Linked DNA regions of Homo sapiens. The protein of the gene in region 3 interacts with the protein of the main gene of each other region in a biochemical or structural test. Each region holds a gene or a part of one and is shown on either strand. Other genes may lie near its edges.

The links.
Region 1: the proteins of MYOC (region 3) and TKT interact in far-western blotting, tested with the Homo sapiens proteins (one study listed by BioGRID).
Region 2: the proteins of MYOC (region 3) and FBN1 form a complex in vitro, tested with the Homo sapiens proteins (one study listed by BioGRID).
Region 4: the proteins of MYOC (region 3) and SPARCL1 form a complex in vitro, tested with the Homo sapiens proteins (one study listed by IntAct).

The regions. Positions count from the first base shown.
Region 1 is NC_000003.12:53,253,005-53,260,772, reverse strand, and holds the start of TKT (transketolase), read left to right. Parts: upstream 1-4,750; 5' UTR 4,751-4,830; coding exon 4,831-4,937; intron 4,938-7,768. UniProt on the Homo sapiens protein: Catalyzes the transfer of a two-carbon ketol group from a ketose donor to an aldose acceptor, via a covalent intermediate with the cofactor thiamine pyrophosphate.
Region 2 is NC_000015.10:48,481,710-48,488,734, forward strand, and holds part of FBN1 (fibrillin-1 isoform a preproprotein), read right to left. Parts: intron 6,785-7,025; coding exon 6,659-6,784; intron 6,533-6,658; coding exon 6,404-6,532; intron 5,729-6,403; coding exon 5,603-5,728; intron 5,492-5,602; coding exon 5,366-5,491; intron 3,788-5,365; coding exon 3,665-3,787; intron 2,235-3,664; coding exon 2,109-2,234; intron 72-2,108; coding exon 1-71.
Region 3 is NC_000001.11:171,635,683-171,642,707, forward strand, and holds part of MYOC (myocilin precursor), read right to left. Parts: intron 3,041-7,025; coding exon 2,915-3,040; intron 1,028-2,914; coding exon 243-1,027; 3' UTR 1-242. UniProt on the Homo sapiens protein: Secreted glycoprotein regulating the activation of different signaling pathways in adjacent cells to control different processes including cell adhesion, cell-matrix adhesion, cytoskeleton organization and cell migration.
Region 4 is NC_000004.12:87,519,367-87,526,391, forward strand, and holds part of SPARCL1 (SPARC-like protein 1 isoform 1 precursor), read right to left. Parts: exon of another isoform or gene 5,987-7,025; intron 1,457-5,986; exon of another isoform or gene 855-1,456; intron 1-854.

The DNA.
Region 1 (7,768 bases), on a different chromosome or scaffold from region 3:
ACTTGAGCCCAGGAGTTCAAAACTAGCCTGGGCAACATAGCATGAGACCTTATCTCTTAACAACAACAAACGTGAGAGGGTGTGTGAGCATTGTCTGTGAGTGTCAGTGTGTGTGTGTGCCAAACAGTTCCTGCAATCTGGGATTCGTCATGCCCGGCCCAAGTGCAGCCCCCTCTGGGTCCCCAAAGTACAGGGGACATGAAGAGGTGGGACATGACTTCCTGACACTGCCAGTCTCTTATGCAAGGTGCCCCTGCCCAGTATGGCTAGACCGGTCCTGGCATTTCAGGCTGAAGGGCAATTCAGAACTCTCTGCTTCACATTCCACTCTAGGCAGCCAGTACAATCCATCAGCACTGCCTTGGTGATCAAAGCCATTGCCCAGGAACAATACTGGGTGGCATGGCACCCCTCAGGACCCCAACCCCCCTCAGGTCCCTTTTAGTGATACTGGAGATCCCTGGGGAGTGGCTGTGGGGGACTCTTACGTGGGGACTCACACTGTTCTGGCTCCTCTAAGGGTGACCTTCTCCCTAGTGCTGCACGGGTCCTGGGGGACAGCTCAGATTCCAGAATGTGGCTCTGCTCTCAGGTCACTGTGGCCTCTGCTGGCACCTGATGCCGGCAGTAGGACATTTCTGCCACTTCCTACCCTCCAACAGAGCACCTTTGTGTCTCGGTTTCTGGAAAGGCCGGAATGAAGGACACCAGTCTGAATGGCCAGATTCCCTCCCCTGAGGCCTCCCTGATGCCCTCTTGGCTTGGGTGCAGCCCTGGCACTTGCTGACTCTGTGTCCTCAGGCACATCACTTGACATTCATGCTTTCATTCTGCAGGCATTCATTGAGCCCCTATTGTATATGAGACCCAGTTGTAGTCCCTGCGGATAGAGCCAGGGACAAGAGATTGTATTCCGGCTCTCCGGGAGCTGACCAAAGATCATGCAGATAGGCAGAGAGCCCTGCAGAGACCAAGACAGGCAGTGTGATGGGCAGCATGGCTCTAGATCCAGGCCATGTGAGGAGCCTCAGGAAGGGCTCTGCTGGCTCAGGGAGCAGCCTGTGCAAAACCTCTAGGAGGGAGTGGGCTTGGTATTTTTTAAGGAATGCGAGGTCAGTGTGGCTGAGATGGGTAGGGCTGGGGGACCTGAATTATATCCAAAGGGTGGAGGAAGAACAACATGGGAGTTAAGCTGGGGAGGAACACTTCTCTGGCAGCCATGGGGAGGGTGAACAGGAGGCTGAGAGAGGATGGGGTGTGAGGGCAGCAGGGAGCCAGATGTTAGCTGGAAGCCAGACAGGATCCCAGGGCTTTCTTCCAAGTGCCATGTGACTTCTGAGGCGTGAGGGTTCGAATAAAGACCCTGGGACCTGGGGACAAGGGAACCACCCTGGACAAACTGGGTGCTAGCAACACCTCCAGCTAGCCTAGGATTCTGGTTCTGAAGCTGACCTTCAGGAAGACCAAGAGCTCTTGAAATAAGGCTGAACCCTTGGGCCCTGTGAAAGGGAAAACACTCAAACTCTGTTTTTCCTCTGTTCTCACACCACAACAATTAACACAAAAGACTCCTGTGATCAAATGTGTGGGGGTTTCTCCCCATGCACCAAGCAAGCAACCAATTCTGCAGCAACACCAGCTGGGTGTCCTCCAACTCTATTCCATTCTGATGCTAATTACCTGGAGATAGCCTCAGAAACCACAGGTTAAGGATTCAGTCCCCCAAGAGCACCTCCTCCTTCCCATGAGTCGCAAGATTGGGACTGACCAGCTTCAAGTTGGGGTTCCCACCACTCCCTCTTTGGGTTCAATTAATTTGCTAGCGCAGCTCTCAAAACTCAGGAAAGCACATTTATCGGTTAGTTACAAAGGATATTTTAAAGGAGACAAAGAAACAGTTAGGCAAAGAGATACATAGGCGGAGGCCTGGAAAGGTCCCTAGTGAAGGAGCCATTGTCTCCATGGAGCTGGAATGTTCCACCCTCCCAGCACGTGGATGAGTTCTTGTTCACCTTCCTGTGAGCCTCCACGTGTTCCGCTGTCCAGAAGCTCCTGAACCCTGTCCTCTTGAGCCTTTCATGGACATTTCATTGGACAGACATGATTGACAACCTTGTGGAAATGTGATTAGACCAAAAGTATATGATCTAATACTAACTGACTGAGTGGGGAAACCCCGCAAGACCTGTGTGTCCTGACTCTTCTTGACCTCTCTGTGAAGCTCACTGTCTGGTAAAAGGGCAGACTCTTGAAACCTTTTGAAAACTCTGTGCCATCCAACTCTGTGGCCCTTAGGACAGTGGCTCCCTAAGGGAGTGGCCTCAATTTCCCCATCTGCCTAACGGGACTCATCCTTATCACTCTGCACCCACTCTGGTCTTCCCTCCTCATGGGTATGGGACAGAACCCCTTCTCATGGGGGTCTAATGACCTACAATTACACGAGGTAGGTGAGAGAACTTACTTATGGCCAGCTCCAAGACAGACCGGCAGGAGAAGATCCTGCCATGGGGAGAGAAAGGAGCAGGTGAAAGGAAGGTAGGAGAAGGCCTGAGAGACTCTGTTTCTGGGGTCTGCTCCTGAGGTCTAAAGCACCCCAGTGGTATAACAAGGGTTGGGGGCAGTTCTAAGCCAGGGGCCTGTATATGCATATCATAGTATCACAGGCCCCATTCATGTGGAACACCAGGAGGAGAGAGAGCCTCCCTGAGGTCCCTGGAGCTCCAGGTGGTGGGGAGGGGACAATTTTCTTTCCATTACTCCTAGGTCCCCAGAGCCATGGTGAGTTCTGTGCCATTGTCAGAGACCAGAGTGATAAGGATGAGTCCCATTAGGCAGATGGGGAAATGGAGTCCACTCCCTTAGGGAGCCACTGCTCTAAGGGCCACAGAGTTGGAAGGCACAGAGCTTTCAAAGGGTTTCAAGGGTTTGCCCTTTTTCCAGACAGTGAGCAGCTTGAGGGCAGAGGTGGCACCTGCCAGGCATCTGAGGGTGGCACACTGTGGGGCCCCCCTCCAATCCTAGCCCATAGCCCTCACCAGCCAGACACCATAGGGCCAGCCTCTGCGGGCTGGGCCAGCAGGAGCCAGGTGCTATGGGATGCCATACTTAGGGTCTGATTGGGCATCTGGGGGTCAGGCCAGCAGAGGAGCACCTGGAGGCGAGCTGGGGGACTCACTCAAATTCAGTCAATCGCCTCATGAGCCAGAGCTCTCTGAGTATGGGCAATGCAGGGAGGACACAGAGGACACAGGGCGGCCACTGGTGCCTCTTGGATCTCTCAGGGTTTTAGCTCCCTGCCCAGCCATCCGTTTGAGGGTCTTGCCTTTATCTTTCCTCTGTCAAATGGAGCTTCTTCCTCTGTAAAATAGGCATTGTAGGCAGTATGTACCTCACTGGCCAAGTGTGGTGGGCAGATTGAATGAAACAGTGTCTGTGATGAAAGTCCCCTCCCTAATCCCACTCTGGGGAGCTTCATACCTCTGGGAACCATGGGGTCTGATAACAGTAGTGGTGGGTGCCCCTGTCCCTACAGACCTGGAAGCAAACCCAATAATCTCCCTAAAAGTCAGTAGTGTTTCTAGGCCCTAATAATTTGTAAAGGATCTTCCCCTAGTAATTTCTCAGTTATCATCACCTGGCATTGTCATGGCTACCACTATCCTATTCTCATTTTCAATAATCCCCATCCCCTGTGCAGGGCTCTAAAGCCCTGAGTGGCTGGGCATGGTGGCTCATACCTATAATCCGGCACTTTGGGAGGCAGAGGAGGGCAGATGGCTTGAGCCTAGGAGTTCAAGACCTGCCTGGGTAAAGTGGCAAAACCCCATCTCTACAAAACATACAAAAATTAGCCGGGCGTGGTAGTGTGTACCTATGGTCCCAGCTACTTTTGAGGCTGAGGCAGAAGGATCACTTGAGCCCAGGAGGCTGAGGCTTCAGGCAGCTGTAATCACTCCACTGCATTCCAGCCTGGGTGACCATGGGTGACCCCGTCTCAAAGAAAAAACAAGTTTTTTAATTATTAGAAAAAAGAAATAGGGCCTGGTGCGGTGGCTCACCCCTGTAACCCCAGCACTTTGGGAGGCCGAGGCGGATCACCTGAGGTCGGGAGTTCAAGATCAGCCTGACCAACATGGAGAAACCCCGTCTCTACTAAAAATACAAAATTAGCTAGGTGTGGTGGCGCATGCTTGTAATCCCAGCTACTAGGGAGGCTGAGGCAGGAGAATTGCTTGAACTCAGGAGGCGGAGGTTGTGGTGAGCCAAGATCATGCCATTGCACTCCAGCCTGGGCAACAACAGCGAAACTCAGTCTCAAAATTAAGTCCTGCAGTCTCTTGGGCCTGGGGTTGGTCGGCTGGGGCCAAGCCTGGCACCCACCAGCCTTGTGACCTTGATTGCCCTTGCCAAGCCTCAGTTTGTCCATCTCTAAAATGGGATTCGCCGTGACAAGTCCACGGAGGACTGTGTGGAGGAGGGAGACTGAGAGGCTTTCGAGTCAGGAGCCCAGACTCGAATCCTGAGTTGTTCGTTATGTTATTATTATTGGTGTGTGTGGTTAACTGCTAACCTCGCAGTCCGCAGCGGCCCAGCGCCTAGGGGAGGGGAGCGGGCAGGAGGCGGCCCCAGGCGGGGCGGGGCTGAAGGCCTGGGGTGATCCGAGCCCCGCCTCCTCCCCCTGCCCCGCCTCTCCCATCCCCGCCCCGCCCCGCCCGGCGACTTAACGCGCCCCCGCCCCGCGCCCGGCCTCGGCAGCCGCCTGTCGCCGCGGGAGCAGCCGCTATCTCTGTGTGTCCGCGTGTGCGCCCGGTCCCCGCCTGCCGCACCATGGAGAGCTACCACAAGCCTGACCAGCAGAAGCTGCAGGCCTTGAAGGACACGGCCAACCGCCTACGTATCAGCTCCATCCAGGCCACCACTGCGGCGGGCTCTGGGTGAGTGCGCGGCGCCGGCCGGGGACGCGGCTCGGGCGGGGCGGGGGGCGTCTGCGGCGGCCAGAGTCGCCGCGGGCTCTGGGTCGCGCTGCGAGATGCCTAGACGAGGAAGGTGGCCCGGGCGCCGTCGGAGGGCGGAGACGCGCGCCTCGCAGGGCCCCGGGCTGCAGGCGGCTTCCGCTGCGCCGCACACTCGCCCTACGCCCGGGCTCGGCCGCGTGGGCCTCTGGTCCTCCGTGCGCCTCAGGCCGGCTCTTCCCCACGCGGATCGCCGGCCGCGCAGCTGCATGGTGGCGCGGGGGATGGGCTCGCGACTCGCCAAGTACCCTCTAGGGTGATGCCGGGAAGGCCACCATTACTGCTGTTCTACAGAACGCGGCCCTCTTAACCCTCTCCACCACCTGGCTGTGTGGGCGCCGCCGGGAGTGTTCCCCCTTCCAGATGGGGAAACGGAGGCTCCGAGTTAGTCAGCTACCCAAAGTTACACACAGGGAGATCTGATTTGAGCCCCAGCAGTCCGACTCTAGAGACCCTGTTTTTAATTCCTCTTGCAGGAGACTCGGGGGCCCGGCCTTCTCCCCACCTCAGACTACGCTCCCCTACCCCTGTCTCCTGCCACCCCTGGGTTGGGTCCGAGTTTGGAGCAGGGGGCTGCTGAGACGCCAGGCAGCGGCGGGGCTGATTGGGGGAAGAGGGGAGGAGGGCGGTGGCACGTGGGTGCAGAACCCTGGGATCCATTGTGAAAAGGAGGTCTAAGATTTGACCTGGGGCGGGAGGAGGCGGAGGGCAAGGAGACTGAGAAGGCTGAGCGCCGGAAGGACGGAGTTCCAGGGCCCTAGCGCCGGGAGTGACGTCCTGGGGCAGGGCCAGCCACCAGGTGCTGTATCTCCCAGGCAGGAGCTGGCGTGCCTAGGCCCCAAGATCCTTCCCTGGCCAGCCCTTTTGGCCCAGAAGGTGGACACCCAAGGAGCCTCCTCTGTAGCGGAGACAGGGATAATTAATGAGGGCCACCGTGCATGCAGCTGGAGGTGTCCAGTGGGGTGGGTGAGGGGGTCAGTCAGTGAATTACTTCAGAGCCTGCTTCCCGCTCTGTAAAGCGGGGACAGTAATGGCACTTAACCACGCTGGGTGGTTTCAAGGACTCCAGTGCTCTACTTGGAGGCTGCTTTGAGGCCACAGTGCCAGCAGTGCTCCGGGCTCATGACAGGGTTGTGAGGGCTGCGTGATGGATGATTTCTCGGGACCTTCCCAAACAAGCTCTGTTTCAGACAGACAAGATTCTGGCTTCTGGCCAATTTCATTCAGGATATATTATTAAGAAGTAAATCTGTTCACCTTTCTGGGTGGATACGCATTCACCCTTTGTGCCTCTAAGACACCCTGTTCTCAGAAGGGATTAGATGTCTTTCAAAGCCCTTCCCCCACCCACTGCCTTGCACACTTTGGACCTGTTAGCTCTCCTGGGTTTGTGTCAGTCTTACCACTTATGTGGGGTATCCCCTGCCTGGGCAGGGACCTGGCTTACTCTCAGCTCCCCTTTCACCAGCCTGGCACACGGTAGCTCTGCAGGCCTTGTATTGCTTATTTGGTACTGTTGGACCTGCTACCTTTGGCCGTTTCAGGGGGTCTGAGGTCTAGCTGGAGAGAGGCAGCAATTACCCAACTAAGTAGTATTGCACATCTGAGCATCTTTCAGGGCTAGATAAAACATGCAGATGTTTACAGGGTTCCTGAGCTGCCAAGTAGGTATCTGGTATGACACAGCATCATCGTTTGTTGCATCCTGAGAATAACCCTGTGAGATAGATTGTGTTGTATTCACATTTTATAGACGGGAACACTGAGGCTAGTGTGTTAAGTTACTTGCCCAGGCTGGGAATTGGTGGCCATTCCGTACTGTCTGGTTGGGGCTCATGCTGTCAGGAATGCTTCTTGGCAGGGCATGGTGGTTCATGCCTGTAATCACAGCACTTTGGGAGGCCAAGGTGGGAGGATTGCTTGAGCCCAGGAGTTCCAGACCAACCTGGGCAACACAGTGAGACCCCATAGCTTAAAAAAAAAATTTTTTTTTTGAGATGGAGTCTTGCTCTATCGCCCAGGCTAGAGTGCAGCAGCACAATCTTGGCTCACTGCAACCTCTGCCTCCCAGGTTCAACTGATTCTCCTGCCCTAGCCTCCTGAGTAGCTGGGACTACAGGCATCCGCCACCGCACCGGCTAATTTTTGTATTTTTAGTAGAGATGGGGTTTCACCATCTTGGCCAGGCTGGTCTCTTGACCTCAGGTGATCCACCCACCTCGGCCTCCCGAAGTGCTGGGATTACGAGTGTGAACCACTGCCCCCGGCCAAACATTTTTTTTAATTGGCTAGGTGTGGTGATGTGTACCTGTAGTCCCAGCTACATGGGAGGCTGAGGCAGAGGATCACTTGAGCCCAGGAAGTTGAGGCTGTAGTGAGCCTTGAACATGCCACACACTGCAGCATGGGTGACAGAGTGAGACTGTGTCTCAAAAGAAAGAAAGAGAGAGAGAGAGAAAGAAAGAAAGGCCAAGAAAAGAAAAATAGTTGGGCATGGTGTTACATGTATGCCAGCACTTTGGGAGGCCAAGGCAGAAGGTTCGCTTGAGGCCAGGAGTTCAAGACCAGCCTGGGTAACATTAGCAAGACCCTGTCTCCAAAAATAAATAATGTTTCGGCCAGGCGCAGTGACTCATCCCTTTAATCCCAGCACTTTGGGAGGTGTAGGCGAGTGGATCACCTGAAGGTCAGGAGATCGAGACCAGCTTGGCCAACATGGTGAAACCCTGTCCCTACTAAAAATACAAAAAATT
Region 2 (7,025 bases), on a different chromosome or scaffold from region 3:
AAATGAGCCTTTCGTGTTTTCACAGGTCCCACTTAGGCAGATATTTGGATTCAGGTCACACTCATTGACATCTGTAAAACATATATACTATTAATATATGTAGCTATTTGATATCATTGAGTACTTTCCCCTCGAGACATAATAACTATGACAAATACATTAGAAAAGGTAAAATGCTTTCCCTCAGAAAAACAATGTTAAATTTTAGAGGCCAATTTACATTTGCTCTTCATTCTTTACATTGCAAGCTCATTATTCAGACTGGCTTTCATCTGGCCCATAAGCAGCAGGCCAGTTAATCAAATAAACAGATGGGCTCCATGCTGAGTTTAGAGCTCGTTTATGTGACAGTCTAGAAAACTTTTTAGAACAGCATACTCTATTGCAGGATGAAAAGTTTAATTCAGTCTGCATGATGATAACAATTTAGTTTTCATATTTTGAAAGAAAGGATAGATGAACTGGTTGTCTTAGTGTAAGTAGTTTAAGACTTCACTTCTTTTCCAAATTAAAAATTATTCATTTTTTATGACATTCATTTTAATTCTAGGACTTCAAACATTTTCAGTAAAGGCTTTCAGAAGATAAATGTGATAAAAATGTAAATATAATCAATACCAGACTCTTGCTTCTGGCCAAGATAGAATAACAGGAATTAAAATTATATTCTCAGATGAAACAACCAAAAAAAATAGACAATAGATACCTTAAAAAGTGGTTTTCTAGACATTGGACATTAGGCAACAAAAGACAGTGATCCCTGAGAGAAAGAAAAACTAGGTGAATCCTACAATTGCCCGAGATTACTGAATAGGAGAGTTTTAACTTCATGGCATAAGGAGGAGGTACCAGATGGAGCCAGGCACTGTCCTTGAGTTGAGGAGATGAATCTGGGCATCCTGGAAGGCTGAGGTAGTTAGGGTTCATAGGGCAGAGTAAAGGACAGGAGAGAGCTACACAGAAGAAAGCAATGCCAGAGATTTGCTAAGAGTCTTCTGCAAGTATTCAGATGAGTAGTGACCAGCACATTCATATAAGGAAACAAACTACTCAAGGCTGGGGAAAGCACTACCCAAGAAAATGAGAGGGAACAATCCTCAAAGTTCACAGGGGGTCTGGGATTGTGCCTGTTCCCACCAGCCTGACTGGAAAGCCTCATAATTCACAGGGAATTGGGTAGAATATCCAGAAGGGTCTTACCTCACTAACAGAGCAAAATTACCCCTAGACTAAGTGTAGCTTAAAAGCTTAAAAGCAAGACTTTGAAAGGGATCCATGTGTTTCCAAGTAATTTACACTTCAGAACAAAGTTCAAAAATATTTCTAGGAATACAAAAATATCTAGCACTCAGTAAGGCACAATTTACACTATCTGGTATCCAATCAAAAATTACCAGTCACTCAATGAAGCAGGAAAATATGACCTAAAATAAGGAAGAAAGTCAATTTATTCAAATGACCTAGAACCAATGCAGATGACAGAATTAGGAGACAAAGACACTAAAAGTTGTTATAACTGTATTCCATGTGTTCAAACAGCTAGAGGAATGATTGAACTTATGCAGAGACACAGAATATATGAAAAAATACCCAAGTCGAACTTTTAGAGGTGAAAACTACAACATCTGAGATGAAAAATACACTGTATGTGAGGAAAGGCAGATTAGAGATCGTAGAAGAAAAGTTTATCAAATTTGAAGGCATAACAATAGAAACTATACAAAACAAATAGATCAGTTCTAAAGTTTACTGCATTCTTGTCAGAAGTAAATTTTGTTTGCCTTTAGTCAAGGATTTAAAAAGCCTACATGATAGTCAAAGCAGAAGGAGGGTTAAGTGGACAAAAGTAATGGATAGGCATAAAAGAAATGTCCATCTGGAGCTGACGAATGGCCAGTCAGTCCTCATAACATATCTGACAAGAGTACCATTTAATAGCCACAAGAAAGCTCTCTTTGGAATGCTGGTTAAAATATGAGTATTGTGCCTCTAAATATCCTTACTTTTCCTATGGAATCTTTCTATCACTGACCCAAACTAACTTTATGTAATTTAACAGTGCTTATGACTAACAAGACAAGATGAAAAATTCTGTCTTCTTTGCTTACCTACACAAGTCTTCATGTCTTCAGATGCCATGAATCCATCATAACACAAGCACCTGTACTCTCCAGGGATATTTGTGCACTGACCACCATCACAGATATTGGGATTATCTTCACACTCATCGATGTCTGCAAAGAATAAAACCAACAACCACAGGTTGTTGATATTGGTTCCACTGTTCAGTGAGAAAACATTAACTGACCGCAGTCAAATAAACTTAGCCTACTAGCATAAGACTATTAACTCTCAAATCCAAATGAAGCTTTGCATAAACTAGCCCATTGGGTTATCCTTGGTAAAAAAGGAAAAAATATTTTTCAATATTTATAATATACTGCTCAAGGGCAACGTCCACACCTGCTTAAAAGTCTATTATTTATTTAAAATCTTTCTTTCATTTAATTTATCATTCAAAAATTATTATAAATCTTATTTTCCCTATTGTCAAATTATAAATGCCTGAATTCTATCAACTGTTTTAGCAATATTTTAAGGTAAGAATTACTTGAAATAACCATACCTACTTAGATGCTCTTAGTAATAATATTTACTTTCAACAATTTTTTTTTTTTTTTGAGACAGAGTCTCACTCTGTCACCAGGCTGGAGTGCAATGGCGCGATCTTGGCTCACTGCAACCACCGCCTCCCAGGTTCAAGCGATTCTCCTGCCTCAGCCTCCCAAGTAGCTGGGATTACAGGCATGTGCCACCACACCCAACTAATTTTGTATTTTTAGTAGAAATGGGGTTTCACCATGTTGGTCAGGCTGGTCTTGAACTCCTGAACTCAGGTGATCTGCCTGCCTCAGCCTCCCACAGTGCTGGGATTACAAGTGTAAGCCACCGTGCCTGGCCTTATTTTCAACAATTTTTGTAGCCAAATTTATATCTAGATTTTTTAAGGGACATTTTTCTAGGTCAGTAAAATAATTTTGGTTCCTAAATCCAAATTCTCTTCTTAAGCCAAGCCAAAATCAAAGCCTATGTTATTACCCACTTTGTTTCTCACCTCTACCTGGCTCACAGCTCTCGCAGCCAGGGTGATACAAAAGGAAGTGTAAATTAGACCACTGGTTCTCAAACTTTAGCATGCATCCAAATCATTTGGAGAGATTGTGAAAACAAATTCCTGGGATCTACCTCAGTAGTTTCTGATACGGTAGATCTGGAATGGGGCCTGAGATTTTACATTTTTTTAACAAGTTCTCAGGTGATGCTGTTGCCAATGGTTCAAGGAATAAACCTGGAGTTGCACTGAATTAGGCCAAAACATCAAACTCTTCAAAAGTCTGGTCAATGAAGGAAAATGTATTTTATATTCCATTTATTATATGCCAGGTACTATGGTAAGCTCTGTAAATACTATTTTATGCAGGCAATTTGAACTTCATTTTATAGATGAGGATTCTAATAATAGGTATCTTGATTAAGGATACAGTTAAAATATATGACAAACAAGGGTTTGGACTCAAGCCTGCTTGACTCCAAAGCCTGGGCCCTAAACTACTTTACTTAGGAACCTACTGAGAGATTCAACATGAGGCTAGAACCTACTCACCGGTGCATGATCTCTGGTCAGGCATTAGTGCAAATCCCGGCTGACAGCTACATTCATAGCTGCCTTCAGAGTTTGTGCAGAAGGTTTCACAACCACCATTCATTATGCTGCATTCATCAATGTCTAAAAGAAATGAAAATAATATCACCTTCTGATATGGTTTGGATGTCTGTCCCCTCCAATACTCGTGTTGAAATTTAACTGCCATTGTAACACTATTTAAGAGGCAGGGCCTTTAAAAGAGGTAATCATCCTATGAGGGCTCTACCCTCATGGTGGGATCGGTGCTGTTATAAAAGATCAAGTTCAGCCCCCTCTTGCTCTCTTTCACCCTCGTGCTTTCTTCAATGGGATAACGTAGGAAGAAGGACCATGCAAAATCCTGGCTTCTTGATATTGGATTTCCCACCCTCCAGAACTGTGAACTAATAATTTCTATTCATTATAAATCACCCAGTTTCAGGTATTCTATTACAGTATCACAAAAATGGGCTAACACACCTCCCTCTGTGTTTATGAGCATGGCACATTTTTAACATTTCCAGGCATACGTCAAATAAAGGGGAAAAAGCATTCTAGGGCAACTGAGTCACTGATTCCTTCAACAAATGTTAATGACATACCTACTATATGCTAGAGATGAGACTCTAATAGTGAATGGGACAGACACAATCTTTGACTTCAAAATGATTACACTGTGGCCAGGAGACAGATGAACAATTAATTGCACCATGCATGATGTGCCATTTGCAATGCAGGAGAAGTATTGGGTGCTAGGAGAACACATCTCAGTTATGATAATAGGCACGTGGATGAAATTCTCTTGGCCACAGATTCACTTATAAACTTGAAATTCAGTTTGATTGGCTGAGGTTCCAATCTTTTTCAATAACCTGAGTTGAAGTTCTGAGTTGTCCTGGGCCATGTTTCAGAAAACTTTGGGCTGATTTATGGTTTTGGGTGGAAACCATGTGAGACTTGGCAGTTCCACATGGTGTACACCCCAAACCAGGCAAAAACTGGCAGTTTCTACAAAGTTTCACTTTGACTCGGGGCACAATAAAGCCACAGGACTGTCTGTGCCACTCTTCACAGCACGACTAAACCTACAGAGGGCTGACCACAAAGCAAAATTCTTGTCCCACAAAAACCCATCTTTAAGGAGAGCCAGGCATAGCCTCAATTGCAGTGTAAGATATGAACATTCCATGGTCTTCTTTCCAATAGTTATTTTTTTGAAATCTTTTAGCTGATCTAAACCACATAAGGGCAGTGATTTCAACTCAGCTTTCTGCTCTTTTCCACAGCACTCACCGTGTTTAGTTTATTTCAGGTGGTTAGTTACCATTTGTTAATGTGCATTGGTATGCATGTGTGTAGACAAAGCACATGCTGCTACTGTTCCCTATCCAAACGGCATGGGTCAAATTATGCTTATTAGAGCTAAAACATCCTATGTCCTTCACTTAACTGGCTCTTTAAACAGATAATGGAGATGAGATCCAAAGATCGTGAGCCACTATAAAAAGAATATTGCAGGGAAACAAGAAAGATAAGTAAAAGTAGCGATGAAAACAAAACTCAGAGTACATAGAGTGTTTTAGGGAGAGATGAAATAAAATAAAATAAAATAACATAACATAACATAACATAAAATAAAGTAAAATAAAATAAAATAAAATAAAATAAAAAAGAACTTACCAACACAAAATAGCCTATCGGGAGTTGAATGGTAGCCAGGGTTGCAGGCACACTGATACTTCCCTATGAGGTTCACGCAACGGCCATTGGGGCACAGGTGTGCACTCAGCTCACATTCATTGATGTCTGTCGGGAAAATAAGAAGAACAAACACCCAAACATAAGCTTCCAACTTTGGCAATGATGTCATTCAAACAACTGACCACAAGTAAATGGTGTGAAAGTCTTTCTCCTTACCGATACACGCGGAGATGTTGGGGGACAGCTGATGGCCAGGCGGGCATTCACAGCGGTAACTTCCCTCTGTGTTATGGCAAACACCACCTCGGCATAGGAGAGGATCTCTCTGACACTCATCAATATCTGCAAAATGGAAATGACCATGTTAAAGGTGGGGGCCTCATCTCCTCCACCAGACCAAGCACTCCTCCCCCACCCATTGCTGGGTGTCCATCTTGACCTCCTTGTCTCAAGGTGGGACAACTCTCTGGTGCTATTCATACACCAGATCTCCCTGCAGGATCAGACTAAAACCAAAATGCAGCCAAACTCTTGGTTTATTTTCTTCTCCTGCACTACCCTGCTCTCCTTACTTCCTGACAAGTACCTTCTGAGAGAATTTGCTCACAGTAAGAAATACCACTTTTGCAAGAATCTCCATTTCAAACTTTGTTTCTAGGAAACCAGACCTAAAGCAACAAGTTTACCAATCACCTTTTCTAGAAGTGTTGGACAGACATCTTGTAAAGGGACCTCTACTACAGCTTCTGTCTCAATTGTCCTCTCTTCCGCCTGGGTATCCATTTCAGGTGTTAAAATCACTTCTCAAGGGCCCACAACTGGTCTCCGCCATCACCCACAAACCCACAGCATGAATTCCCTCATTCTTTCTACCTCAGTCTCCCTCTGTTGCAGACTGATTCCTAACTTCACTGGTTGCACTGGGGCAGCAGGAAGAACCTGGAACATAGGCTATGAGCCATCAAAGCTTCATGGAATCCTTCTCTTTCTGTGTTGATCAAATGATCCCAAACTTACCCATGCAGTTCTTCATCATCATGAATCCACTTTCATAGCCTTCGTCACACTTGCATTCAAAGTCCCCAGGGGTGTTCACACACTGGCCTCTGCCACAGAGGTCAGGAGATATGCGGCATTCGTCAATGTCTGCACAAAAACAGCAAGTGGCAGCAAATGAGTCTCAGGACAGCCTTAATTCTTGCGACAATATGTTAAAGATAAAGAGTTTTAAAGGACGTCCCCTCTCCTGGCCCTTAAGGCTCATTAACTGACCTGTGCAGTTCCTTTCTTCAGAATCAAGAGCAAAGCCGCTGTCACACCTGCACTTAAAGCTGCCAATGGTGTTTCTGCACTTGCCGTGGGTGCAGAGGCTGGGTATCATCTTGCACTCATTGATATCTTCAAGAATAAGAAAATGTGGGGCAAAATAAGTTTATGAGCAAGCAGTCAGGAGGTCTCAATGCCCACCATTTTAAATCATGAAGGTTGGAAGTTCTTGATTTAAGGTCTTGGCAGTATACATTTCCAAGAATGTGTGATGATCCATGAGATATATGACTTTGTAAACATTTCTAGCCTTTCAAATTTCTACATTTTATAAAGCATTGTTAAAGAAGCAAATAATGTGTCTATTCAGACT
Region 3 (7,025 bases):
TTAAACATCCCATAAATGCTGACAGAAGATAAAGGATATTTATTATATGAAATTGTCTACGCCCTCAGACTACAATTCCTGAATAGTTAGATGGTGACCATGTTCATCCTTCTGGATTAATGAAAACTTGGAAAGCAGTCAAAGCTGCCTGGGCCCTGGCTGGCTGGCTCTCCCTTCAGCCTGCTCCCCCCAGGAGCCCTGAGCATCTCCTTCTGCCATTGCCTGTACAGCTTGGAGGCTTTTCACATCTTGGAGAGCTTGATGTCATAAGTGACCATGTTCAAGTTGTCCCAGGCAAAGAGCTTCTTCTCCAGGGGGTTGTAGTCAATCATGCTGCTGTACTTATAGCGGTTCTTGAATGGGATGGTCAGGGTCTTGCTGATACCTGTGCCTGTGTCATAAGCAAAGTTGACGGTAGCATCTGCTGAGGTGTAGCTGCTGACGGTGTACAAGGTGCCACAGATGATGAAGGCATTGGCGACTGACTGCTTACGGATGTTTGTCTCCCAGGTTTGTTCGAGTTCCAGATTCTCTGGGTTCAGTTTGGAGAGGACAATGGCACCTTTGGCCTCATCGGTGCTGTAAATGACCCAGAGGCCTGCTTCATCCACAGCCAAGTCAATGTCCGTGTAGCCACCCCAAGAATACGGGAACTGTCCGTGGTAGCCAGCTCCAGGGATTTCCTTCTCAGCCTTCACTGTCTCGGTATTCAGCTCATATCTTATGACAGTTCTGGACTCAGCGCCCTGGAAATAGAGGCTCCCCGAGTACACCACAGCACCCGTGCTTTCCAGTGGCCTAGGCAGTATGTGAACCTTAGAAGGGTAGCCCTGCATAAACTGGCTGATGAGGTCATACTCAAAAACCTGGCGGACATCCGTGCCAACTGTGTCGATTCTCCACGTGGTCTCCTGGGTGTAGGGGTAGGTGGGCTTGGGGTCTCGCATCCACACACCATACTTGCCAGTAATTGTTTCTGCTGTTCTCAGCGTGAGAGGCTCTCCTACCCAAACTAGTTCTCCACATCCTGGTAAATTCAGAAAAGAAAACGAAGCACCACTTAATCCATAATCTTTCCAAACACAGACAATGATCATGCGGAAGCTTGGCAGAGCCAGTAGATGTGACAGCCCTGGAGACAAATCGTCTGGGTTTAAAGCTAGGCTCTACCACCCGCTGGCTGTGTGACTTTCAGTAAGTTACTTAGCTCTCTACGCCTCAGTTATCGCATTTGTAAAAGGGGATACTAATAGTGTTTTGGGTAGTAGGGCTGTTGTAAATTTTAAATGTAATTATATATGTTAAGTGCTTGGTATAGAGTAAATATATGGTAAATGCTATATGATCAATCTGTGTTTCATGTTATTGACAATTATTGCTATCACTGAGGGGCATGCATGGGAGTGGGAGCTATAAAATATTTAAAGTACAATTCACTCAGTATCAGTTGTAAGGATGAAAGTTGCACAGAGGGCTTCAACTGCATTTGTAATATTCTACTTAAGCTGGGCAGGGACCCATGGGTGTTCATTGTATTACTTATTGTGACTTTCATGCCTGGTTTATTTCATTACTATAAGGTAGGAGAGAGAAAAATCAACTCATAAGAATAATCTCCATACAACAAAGTTTTTCAAGCCCTGATGAGTCACATATTTCATACATCATTTTAATATAATAAACATGAAAATAATTATTTTTTGAGACAGGGTCTTGCACTGTTACCTAGGCTGGAGTGCAGTGGTGCAATCACAGTGCACTGCAGCCTCGACCTTCCAGGCTCAAGCACCCCTCCCATCTCAGCCTCCTGAGTTGCTGGGACTACAGGTGCCTGCTACCACACCTGGCTAATTTGGTTTAGAAAATAATTTTTTAAATGTAGTGAAGAGACGGTTGAAAATTTAGAGTTACCAGAATCACAACAGATGTCTGTATTTTTTTTTTTTTTGAGACAGAGTCTCACTCTGTCGCCCAGGCTGGAGGGCAGTGGTGTGATCTCGGCTCACTGCAACCTCTGCCTCCTGGGTTCAAGCAATTTTCCTGCCTCAGCCTCCCAAGTAGCTGGGATTACAGATGACTGCCACCATGCCTGGCTAATTTTTGTATTTTTAGTAGAGACAGTGTTTCACCATGTTGGCCAGGCTGGTCTTGAACTCCTGACCTCAAGTGATCCGCCCGCCTCAGCCTCCCAAAGTGCTGGGATTACAGGCATGAGCCACCATGCCTGGTCCAGATTTCTCTACTTTTAATGGCACCTTCGGTTCCCTCATAGAAGGTAGAAACACTTTGCTGCTCATATCTTAGAGAACCGTGTTTTAAATATTTCATAACCCCTACTTGCATGCATGCCCTTCAGTGCTAGTAATCATTGTCAATAACATGGATAGTCAAAGTTTCTGGAAATCACAGTATTAGTCATAAAGTTGGACTTTCAGGGAACACTTTGGAGAGAGCCAAACTGTACTTTTCCTAAGTGGCCAAAGTTCAGAAAACATACTGTTAGTAACAGATTGTGGCTGAGATGGTGCTTGGTGTATACCTGTCCCTAAAATAAAGATATGAAGGCGCTACTGAAAAATGTAACTTCTCAAGTATATCTAATTCTACATGACAATCAAGTGGATGAAATCAACACATCTCTCATCTTGCCCTGTGCAGCCCAGCCCAGCCTCCCAAGTGTGGGTGATAGGATAGAGGGCTTTGTTAGGGAAAGGCTGACTCCTGCAGACCTGCTCTGACAAGGGAACAGAGAGAGAGAGAGAGTTCTGTTCCTCTTCTCCTCCCCTCCCTCTGCTCCCAGGGAAGTTAATTTCCCCCTTGGGTGGGCATTTACCCTATACTGATTCTCTGAACACAGCACTAGACATGAATAAAGACCACGTGGGCACAAAAGGGAAGAAACTTAACTTCATACCGGTGTCTCCCTCTCCACTCCTGAGATAGCCAGATGGGCTCTCCTTCAAAATTCGGGAAGCAGGAACTTCAGTTAGCTCGGACTTCAGTTCCTGGAAGGCCAAAGTGTCCAAATTCCACGTAGAAACTGCATTAAAAGAAAGAGACAAAATTTTACTGTAAGAAAAAATGGCCCAAGGATTGACTATGTTGAGGATGACATTTAAATAGGCTGCCGGCCAGGCGTGGTGGCTCATGCCTGTAATCCCAGCACTTTGGGAGGCCGAGGCAGGCGGATCACCTGAGGTCAGGAGTTCGAGACCAGCCTGGCCAACATGGTGAAACCCTGTCTTTGCTAAAAACACAAAAGAATTAGCTGGATGTGGTGGCAGGTGCCTATAATCCCAGCTTCTTGGGAGACTGAGGCAGGAGAATTGCTTGAACCAAGGAGGGGGAGATTGCTGTGAGCCGAGACTACACTATTGTACTCCAGCTTGGGCAACAAGAAAGAAACTCTGTCTGAAAACTAACTAACTAAATAAATAGGCTCCCAAAGATATGGTGTTTGAGATTTGATTTTAGATAAGGACTGGGGATGGGTTGGGGGTCAGAGAAGGGAAGATAAAACATGATTGGACTGTGCTGATAACAGTTGGGCCTGAGTGATGGCTACATTGGAGTTCATTGTAGTCTCTCTACTTTTGTGAATATTTGAACAATTCCATAATTAAAAACCTCATAAATAATAAATTGCAGGGCAATGTGCCTACCTTAGAGTAGGGTATTCAAAATCAAATAATATTTTAATTCCACTAGAAGGGCTGGTTTGTGAATAGGTGAGTCGTAATTTCAGGAATATGGAGACAGTCCTCAGCATCTTCTTAGATGTCTGAATTTCAATAATTAAAAATTCATGAAAAATTAGCTGGGCATGGTGGTAAGCATCTGCAGTCCTAGGTACTTGGGAGGCTGATGTGGGAGGATTGCTTGAGCCCAGAAGTTCAAGGCTGCAGTGAGCTATGATCCTGCCACTGCACTCCAGCTTGGGTAACAGAGCAAGGCCCGGTCTCAAGGTCTCAAAAAAAAAAAAAAAGAGACCGGGCACAGTGGCTCACACTGAAATCCCAGCACTTTGGGAGGCCGAGGCAGGCGGATCACTTAAGGCCAGGAGTTCAAGACTAGCCTGGCCAGCGTGGTGAAATTCCATCTTTACTAGAAATACAAGAATTAGCAGGGTGTGGTGGCACATGCCTGTAGTTCCAGATACTCAGGAGGTTGAGGATCACTTGAACCCAGGAGGCAAAGGTTGCAGGGAGCCGGGATTGTGCAACTGTACTCCAGTCTGGGCAACAGAGCAAGACTCTGTCTCAAGAAAAAAAAAAAAAAAAAAAAAAAAAAAGAAGTGTGGCTCATGTCTGTAATCCCAGCACTTTGGGAGGCCAAGACAGGAGGAGTACTTGAGCCCAGGTGTTCAAGACCAGCTTGGGCAACATAGGGAGACTCCTGTTAAAAAAAAAAAAAAGATAAAAGTTTACTGCATGACTTAAGGTTTTTTCCCTTGTTATATGCAAATATTCTTGTAAGAAGTAACATATTAAGCTTTATACTTTCAGTAGAAATATTCTGTCTGATTCCTTTCTGAGACCAGTTTTGCATAATGGAGAGGGAGTGTGTGCAGAGTTCCTATAGGAGTTTGGGGTGGGGGTGGTGAGCCATACAGAAGGGAAGCGGGTGGGCAGCATTGGTTAGACAGTAAGTGATCATGGTGTGCTACATGTCTCTACTCTTGCTTAGGATTATGATCTTACAGCAGTCTTGAATACAAGGATGAGGCAATAGTCACAAGGAACAGGCTTGGCTATTTTAAAATGCAGTTTGGCCAGGCCCAGTGGCTCATACCTGTAATCCCAGCACTTTGGGAAGCCAAGGTAGACAGATCACTGGAGCCCAGGAGTTCAAGACAAACCTGGGCAACATGGTGAAATCCCATCTCTACAAAAACTACAAAAAGTTAGCCTGGGTGGTGATGTGTACCTGCAGTCCCAGCTACTTGGGAGGCTGAGGTGGGAGGATCACTTGAGACCGGGAGGTCAAGGCTGTGGTGAGCAGTGATCGTACCTCTGCACTCCAGCCCTGGCGTAGAGTGAGACCCTGTCCTCCCCTCCAACCTCCCAAAAAACCCATCACATACACATAAAAACAAATAAAATGCAGGTTTGATGATTATTCAGGTGTGGCAAGGCCAACATCCCAGGAGGCAATTGTCACTGAAAAGCAAGTTAAAGCAAAATTATGGAGACAGTAAAAAGATCAGCAGTTGTTGGGTGAGGAAGGGATGACTAGGTGAGGCACAGACGATTTTTAGGGCAATGAATACTGTGTATGATACTATAATGGTGGACACATGTCACTATGCATTTGTCTAAACCCATAGAAGGCGCAACACCAAAAATGAACCCTAATTTAAACCGTGGACCTTGGGTGTTGTGCGTGCTGATGCAGGTTCATCAGTTGTAACAACTGCTGTGGCGGGAGATGATGATAATCGGGGAGGCTGTGCATGTGTGGGGGCCAGTAGTATCTGGGAACTGTTTGTACTTTTCTCTCAATTTGGCTGTGAACATAAAACTGCTCTAAAAAAAAATTATCTTTACAAGTTGTTGTACTCACAGAGCCCAAGAGGAAGGGGGCACACTAAGCCCAGGAGGCCACCTGGGGAAGCACCAGGGTTGCTCCAGAAGAGGGCACCAGGGGAAAATGTGGGAAAGCGCCTTTATTCTTTCCATGGGAAGGAAAGAAAGGGGAGGCAGGGTAAGCAGGTTTAGGATTGGGGAGTTTGAATAATTTCAGCAGGATCTGGGGTCACAGGAGTTATCTCTAATTGTCTGGTACCAGGCCCTGGGTGATTAGGTCAGGGGGACAGTGGCCTTGAGTTTGAGCCAGATGGAGGTGGTCACAGGGTGTGGGCTCTGGATTGGTTGGTTTGCATATGAAAGCTGTCCTCCCAGGTGAGTCCTTTGCTAACCGTAGGAACTGGCTACCCCTGGGAGGGGCAGTCCCTCTCACGTTTGCAAGGCCCAGACAGCAAAGCATCAGAATAAAAAGACATGCTTAATACACTGGGCTTTTCTCTTGCTGAACCTCTGAGTCACTTCTCTGCCCTTTGAGCAACTTGTTCCCCGCTCAGGATTCTCAGGTGTTCAGGACAGTGGGAGGAAAGTCAGTGCATCCCCTGAGGCCGGAGCGCCTACACAGCCGAGAGGGTCGGGAAGACATGTTCTGCCTTTGATCATTTGTTTGCTCAGCTCTCCTAAATTTAGATTTCAGGCAGAGAGGATCACCACAGAAGTCTTAATCCTCTGGTTCTACCACATTTCATCAAAGCCACACATTATTTTACATTTTCACATCTCCAGAGTCAGGGTACCTTGTTTGAGTTGCTGGGGTTCAGCTTCAACAAATTATAGTACTGGAAAAAATTTCTCCCTGGAAGGAGGTGAAGAAAACATTCAGCTAGCTCTCAGGTGCAGGCTGGGCCAGACAGCCATGCTGCCCACAGTGAGCCAGCTCAGTAGCTGCTGCAGCTGCCTGCCCCTGATCCCAGCTACCCTTCTCTCCTCTCCACCCCTGCCTCTGTGTGGCTGCAGTTGTTAGCCTCCCTAAAAGTGTTAATGCCCTGGAGGTGGGTGGGTCCTCCATCCCTGGGATATCCCTCAGTCTAGAGTGCACCATGTAAGTAGTTAAAACCCATAAGCTGGCCAGGCGCAGTGGCTCATGCCTGTAAACCCAGCACTTTGGGAGGCCGAGGTGGCAGGATTGCATGAGGCCAAGAGTTTGGGACCAGGCTGGGCAACATAGCGAGACCCCATCTTTACAAAAAATTAAAGAGTTAGCTGGGTGTGGTGGTGCAGTCTGTGGTCTCAGCTACTCGGGAGGCTGAGGCAGGAAGATGACTCTTGAGTCCAAGAGGGCAAGGCTGCAGTGAGCCATGATCATGCCACTGCACTCCAGTCTGGGTGACAGAGTGAGACCCTGTCTTAAAAAAAAAAAAAATTAAAAAAAGAAAGACTCATAAGCCAAAATGTATATGTAACTGAGGACATCCTCAATGTGCATTCCAAACTCCAGGGGCA
Region 4 (7,025 bases), on a different chromosome or scaffold from region 3:
CGGCCTGGGTCCCTATCATATTATATAGGCAATTAGATAACTCAAGTTGAATCAAATAATGTAAAAATGCTTTGCTTTCAGAGCTATTTAGGGCCACTTTGAATGGTGGGTTCATTAACTCTGTAGCCATAGCACTTTTATTTGAACCTAGTGTAAAGTTTGTCCTAAGTTTTGAAAAAGATAACCATTTACCACTCCCCACTCCACTAATCTTCAACTAAGAACCTATTAGTTGACTGCATGATTCTTCTGAAAATTTGCAAATTTTTTTCCCTATAAGCTGCAAATACATATTTTACACACATTCAGTGGAGTACAGTGATTATACAGAAGTGACAGAGATTTGAATAGAATGTGGTTAGTAATTTTATTTTTAAATATCTCAGCAATTATAGACTTGTGTCAAGTACTCATAAAATATCTATTTTCATAAATTACTGTTTTGAGAACTGTTTCCGTTTATCTCAACCAGGTTTTAGGAATTTAGGATGACCCCTCTCCAAGCAGTACTACAGTCTCACTAACCTCAAGCAAACAGGTTGGCTGAAAGGGTGACACACAGCATTGGATATCACAAAGGTAGCAGAAACAGGCCAGGCACGGTGGCTCACACCTGTAATCCCAGCACTTTGGGAGGCCGAGGTGGGTGGATCACTTGAGGCCAGAAGTTCAAGACCAGCCCAGCCAACATGGTGAAACCTCATCTCTACTAAAAATACAAAAACTAGCCAGGCGTGGTGACAGGTGCCTGTAGTCCCAGCTACTCAGGAGGCTGAGGCAGGAGAATCACTTGAGCTGGGTAGGCGGAGGTTGCAGTGAGCCGAGATTGCACCACTGCACACTGTACTCTAGCCTGGGTGACAGAGCCAGACACTGTCTCAAAAAAAAAAAAAAAAAAAAGTTGTTGGGAACAGATTATGGGAGGATATTGGCCTAAATAATTCACTAATTTATTTATCATTTAACATGGCATTCCAAGTTCAATAAGAAAAGTCATCTTGCCGGAAAAAAAAGTGTGTGGGAGGGAGCAAGTGTTGGCTCAAAATTTGCTTTGCCTGACTAATGGATCCTTGAGGAAACTCCCCAAACTCCTGGAATCAGATATGAAAACGTTTTTCCTTTTTGTGGGAGTAGGGGGTAGAAGATTATGACTTTTGTTCCTAAGCAAGGCAAGCCAAGGTCATTGCAACCTTCCTGCATAATTGTCAAAGTGAGAAGGCAGAGCACAAGCATATCCCCTGCCTGAAGCCCTTTTGTTTAGTTTCCTTTTGTATCAAAAAGATTGGCTTTCACCATGGGAGAGGTTGTAATTGGATTTCACCATGAAAGGAAGTTGTAATTGGATTTCTCAGCACTCTACAAGCTCTGTCCCTGGAAAAGCAAGGAAAAGGGGCCTGAATATCCTTTCTGCTAGCTGGAAACAGCCCAGCCAAGCCATCAGAGATTGACCTGAAAGGTATGGGCAGAATGGGCCATGTGTGTGTCAGCTACCCCCATCTCTGATGAAAAGCTATGTGTGTAATAGCTAAATATCGCTCCTGAAATTTGTATCTCCTAGAAAAGAGGAGGGTGTCTAAAGTTTGGCATACACTAAAACACAAAAACATCATTCTCCGTCTAGATTTATTAGGGAACCTACACAAACGACCAGAATATGTTTTTATTTTCGGTACTATGGTTTATTTTGCATTCTTTTTCTGTAATTGGTTCCACTTCAGTTTCTATGATATTTCCTAGAAACTTAAATTACAGTAAGATTAGGTCGAAGTAGATATTTGTATTTGATTTATTTTCAGTTCCTATAGTTTTTTAGAACATTAATTTACATTTAAATTTTAAAAGATAAATTTTATTTTTGAAGTTCTGTATATTGCCATGCCACTTAAATCAACTTAGCACACCTGCTCCCCTGGGCACTTCTTGCCTTGCTGTACTTCTTCTTTCTATCTTCCTTCTCTTTCCTTTTCTCTTAAGCATTAATAAGCTGTCTGAACACTGAACCAGACTGTAAACGCAGTCATCCATACCTCTGAAAGGAGGAACAGGATTCCTCTTTCATATTGGCCACATCAGTGACTCCCTGGAAATTTTAGTGCTGGTAGTTATTGCTTCAAGTCTTTCTAATTGAATTTTCCTTGTGTTGCCTAGCATTCCCCTGGTTTCTGAACCCTCCAGTCTGAACCCTCCAGTGGTTAGCTCCTTCTGTGGCAGCCTCAGCAAAATTTACAAGTCCTCTTCCTTCCCTTCTGGGCCTAGGGAACTTGTTTCAATATTTTTGGGTTTCAAGGCAGATGATGACAACTTGATCTGTTTATCACTTTGTCTAAAGTTTAATGAACTAAGAAAGACATACCATGTGTACTAGAAAAAGGAGAGGTTTGTCTTGTTACTTTCTTTTTCTTATTACTCTTGGCCTATCATTTCCTGGAGTATGTACATCCATGCATCCAAATAAGGCCAGGTATCTTCTGTTGAATTTGTTTATATCAGAGGAAGCCTGTAGACTGCTATTTTTAGCAATTATTACAACTATGGAAAAATTTCCTTTCTGGGAAATGTAGTAAACAAAACAATTATTATAGGTACTTTATAAACAGACTCAGAACGTTCCTGTTCACCTTGTTTTTACATAATAGTCAAAGGCCTTGTTATCAGAGAGCAAATCTCTTAGTCATATTTTGGCTAACATATACGTGCTGTTACCTGATCCAGTGTTAACACTGATGCTTTAGAGCTTTTAAAGTATTAATGAGTCTCTGGGGAGAGCTCTATGGTTTGGCCCTAAAGTCATCTGAAGGGTGAAAAAGACGTTCTTCTATTTTGAGTTCTCTGCTGAGTCACCATCTGACATCAAGGTGTCCCAGCCCTGTGAGTGTATATGATATACTCAGAGTCAATGACTTAAGACTTTTCTGGGCATCTGACCTTCAACTGCCCATCATCCTTCCTAATTGAACCTACCACCATAAGAGTCTGAGCTAGGGATAGACATGGTCATGCCTGTTGGGGCTTTGAGACTAACCAGAAATCCATCCAGACGTTAAAAGTATACATTAAACCTGAATCAAGCAAAGGGCACATACATTTAGTGCTCAGGGAAGGGAGTATTATGGAGATTTACATCTTCCACTGCTCTGCCCTTGCTCTCGGGAGCTGGCTGCCTCTCAGTGCCTCAAATAGGCCACGATCCCTCTTGCTCCAGGGTCTTTGCACAAGTGTTCACGCTGTCAGAATTCTCTCTCCAGCACCCGCTCCTCCCAGCCACCACCACCAAACACACACACACACACACACACACACACACACACACACACACGCACACACACAGAGTTAACCTCTATTCAGACTTCAGATCAAGGAAAGCCATTATTGATCCTGAGTGGAGGTCAGGATCCTTATATACTCTCTTGGAACAAAGGTGTTTTGCCTTCATAACACTTATTTCAGTGTATCATTATATATGGCATGTGTTCAAATAAAATGTGTTTTTTCTCACGCCACCAAATCCTGCCGTAAAAAAGAGGGATTTGACTTATATTCAAGTGCTTCCAAAGTTTCTTCATTTTGAGCAGCAAAGTACTATTCAAAAAAACAATTAGAAATCATCTCAAGAGCTGGGCACAGTGGCTCATGCCTGTAATCCCAGCACTCTGGGAGGCCGAGGTGGGTGATCACCTGAGGTCAGGAGTTCAAGACCAGCCTAGCCAACATGGCAAAACCCTGTCTCTACTAAAAGTACAAAAAATTAGCCAGGCGTGGTGGTGCACACCTGTAATCCTAGCCACTCAGGAGGCTGAGGCAGAAGAATTGCTCCAGCCCAGGAGGTAGAGGTTGCAGGGACCCAAGGTCACACCACTGCACTCCAGCCTGGGTGACAGAATGAGACTCTGTCTCAAAAAAAAAAAAAATCTCAAGCAATGCTTATTTTTATTCTTAGGAAGGTCACCTTGACAAAATGGATGAAAAAATAGATAAAGATATTTAAAGCAGGTTTAGTCATTATTCCTGAGGTATGACTTCATTATTGCAAGTTGGAATCACATAGTTTTAGAAAGCCACACTTACAGTTTCAAGTGGTTTTTAAATACGCCCTTTAAAAAGCACTGGAAAAACAATCTAGTCAGTAATGAAAGTGTGGAGAACATGACCACGAGTGAGGACTAATGCCTGGGGATTAAATTTGCAGCATCAGCAGATGTTTAGCAACTTGCAGAAGGATTGATGATGTGCTCTGTATTAGATAATTACAGCGTGGATCCAGTGAACATACACATTGGTGTTAAAGATGCGTATGAAGAGTTTTAACAAAATTGTTTCATGAAATGTGAGAAAGGAAAAAGTCATGTTAATAAGTATAAAATATTTAAATTAAAGTAACATATTAAATATGTATGTGAACCATAGATTAAATATCCCAAGTGTACATTACAATATATTACCCATTTGTACATGCTGTTTGGCCAAACACTTTGGTTGAGGATGTTCTCACTAGAAAGATGAAGATGGCATTGTATTTGGGGGCACCTTATGTTTGGTCCTATGCAGTTTTCATTATTGTGATGGTTTGATTAATGACCATTTTCATAACTACATAGTAAGCACCACAAGAGCTCAGCCCCTCTCTAGTTTTGCTCCTTGCTGCATTTCTGGAATTTTGCATGGGATAGAACACTGAATACATTAGTTGTTTGAGATGTAAGATAAAAATGCTAACTTATTTTCATAATTGCATGACCTAGAAAACACTGGAGGAACTGAAACAGAAACGTAATAAAAAGTTAATGAAAGATAAGATGTTTTAATACTTTTTACCCTGGTGTTAATCAAGATGAGATGAGTCTTTATAAATGTAAAAAGTCACAATTCTTTTTTTTCCCCCTGTAGAAATCAAATGGTTCACATTTATGCAATGATAATTCTGAGGCCTCTATTCATTATATTTGACTCACTGGGAATTCTAAGTTCAAAAAGGCCATTCATGTCAGAGTTAGATCAAACTGAAACTTACCCAATAGTCCCACAGACAGATCTTTTTGAAAAACATAGAAGTTGACCCTCCTGGTCTTAAAGTGTGAAACTTATATTTGTTTTATCTAAGTTCCTTCCTCAGGACAGGACCTTCAGGCTTCTAAAAAAGTATAAAAGAATGGAAACTCACCAGATCACTGCAGCAGATGCCTGACCGCTTATTCACCATGATTGTTTCCTTACCCCTACCTAGTTCTTATTTTCTTACACATTGTTACATTTTTCCCTTGCTATGTAAACCCCTAGTTTAAGTCAGTTAGTGAGATGGATTTGAGACTGTGCTCCCATCTCCTCAGCTGCAGCACCTGATTAAAGCCTTCTTCATTGGCAATACTTGTTGTCTCAGTGATTGGCTTTCTACGAAGTGAGCAGCAGGACCTAGACTGGAACCTTGCTGTTTCAATAACAAAACCATGAAAAAGAATTGTAATAACTACTACTTATTGAGCATGTACATTCATTATTTTAGTTAATCATACAATGATCATCTTGGCATGGTGGCTCACACCTGTAATCCCAGCACCTTGGGAGCCTGAGGCAAGCAGATCACTTGAGGCCTGGAGTTTGAGACCAGCCTGGCCAACATGACAAAACCCCATCTCTACTAAAACAACAAAAATCAGCCAGGCATGGTAGTACATGCCTGTAGTCCCAGCTACTCAGGAGGCTGAGGCACAAGAATCACTTGAACTCAGGTGGTGGAGGTTGCAGTGAGCTGAGGTCATGTCACTGCACTCTAGCCTGGGCAATAGAGCAAGACTCTGTCTCAAAAAAAAAAAAAATACAATGATCTTATGAATTAGCTGTTATCCACATTTCACAAGTGGGGGAAACTGAGGCTCCTGAGCTTAGCAGCCAACCTTTACCATGGGTTAGATACTGTAATAAATGCCTTACATGCTCAATCTCATTCAATTCCCATGACAATTTTATGACTGTTATTATATCTATTTCACAGATGAGAAGACAGAGGCACAGAATGGATTAGATTAAAACAACTAGAAGGTATGAGTGCCAGGATTCAAGTCCAGGCAGTCTGCCCCAGAATTCCCCTCTATAACCACTACACCATAGCACATCGTGAAGATGGGAGGAAGCAGTGGGAACTTGAAAAATGGATTTATTGCAGGGTTTGCTGCAGTATGTGTATCATGTGAGGCCATTTCTATTTCTCTTTCTTTGCCTTCCCAGTTGTTTTTCCCCTGTATGCCACAGTAAACTAGCCACTGTTTTAGCAGCTCTCTTGTTGATTTTTAAAATACCTATTCACTAAATCTTTAAAGGAAACATTTAGCTACTGCAATGGGTGTACATAAGTTGGTTGTGTAATAGGAAGGAAACAAGCCAGGACTGGAGACTTCATTTCTAAAGAAGGATTTTAAAGCAGACTAAGAGTTATTTCCCAGAGCAGGTCATGAAGCAGGAGTCTCTCTACACCCTTTCATTGCTATGACGACAGCCTGCTCCTGCTACATGCAGCCAGAAAAAGCAGCTTACATTTCAATGCTAGGAACATAGGGGAGAGGTTTACAAAAACACCAAACAAAGACAAAAAAACAAAAAAAAGACTCTTTCACTTGAATTTCAGTTAGAGAGGAAAAAATATCCCCTGGAGCAAGTCAAAAGCCCTATTCTTGCCTTTAGAAGAGATAAGAAAGAAGAAATGTTGGGGGCTTTCCCTCTTGTCCAAGTGGGCCAATAAAACAGAATTGACAGCAAAGCAGCATTTCTTCTCACTCTGTGTAATGGCAAGCTGGCATAGAACACTTTCTTTGGTTTCCTTTGACTTGGCCATTAAGAAGCTACTAACTGATGCAGCAGTGAAGTCTCATAGTAATAAATACCTCGTGTTGAGGCCCCCCACCAGGGGAAAATAGTAGTGTCCGATTTACTTTTACATTTCTTTGGATAAAAAAGGCAATTCAAAGAATATTTCCTTCTTGATCTCCATTGTTACTACCAGAGAAATCATTGCAAGTATGTAACAGAGGCCTCAC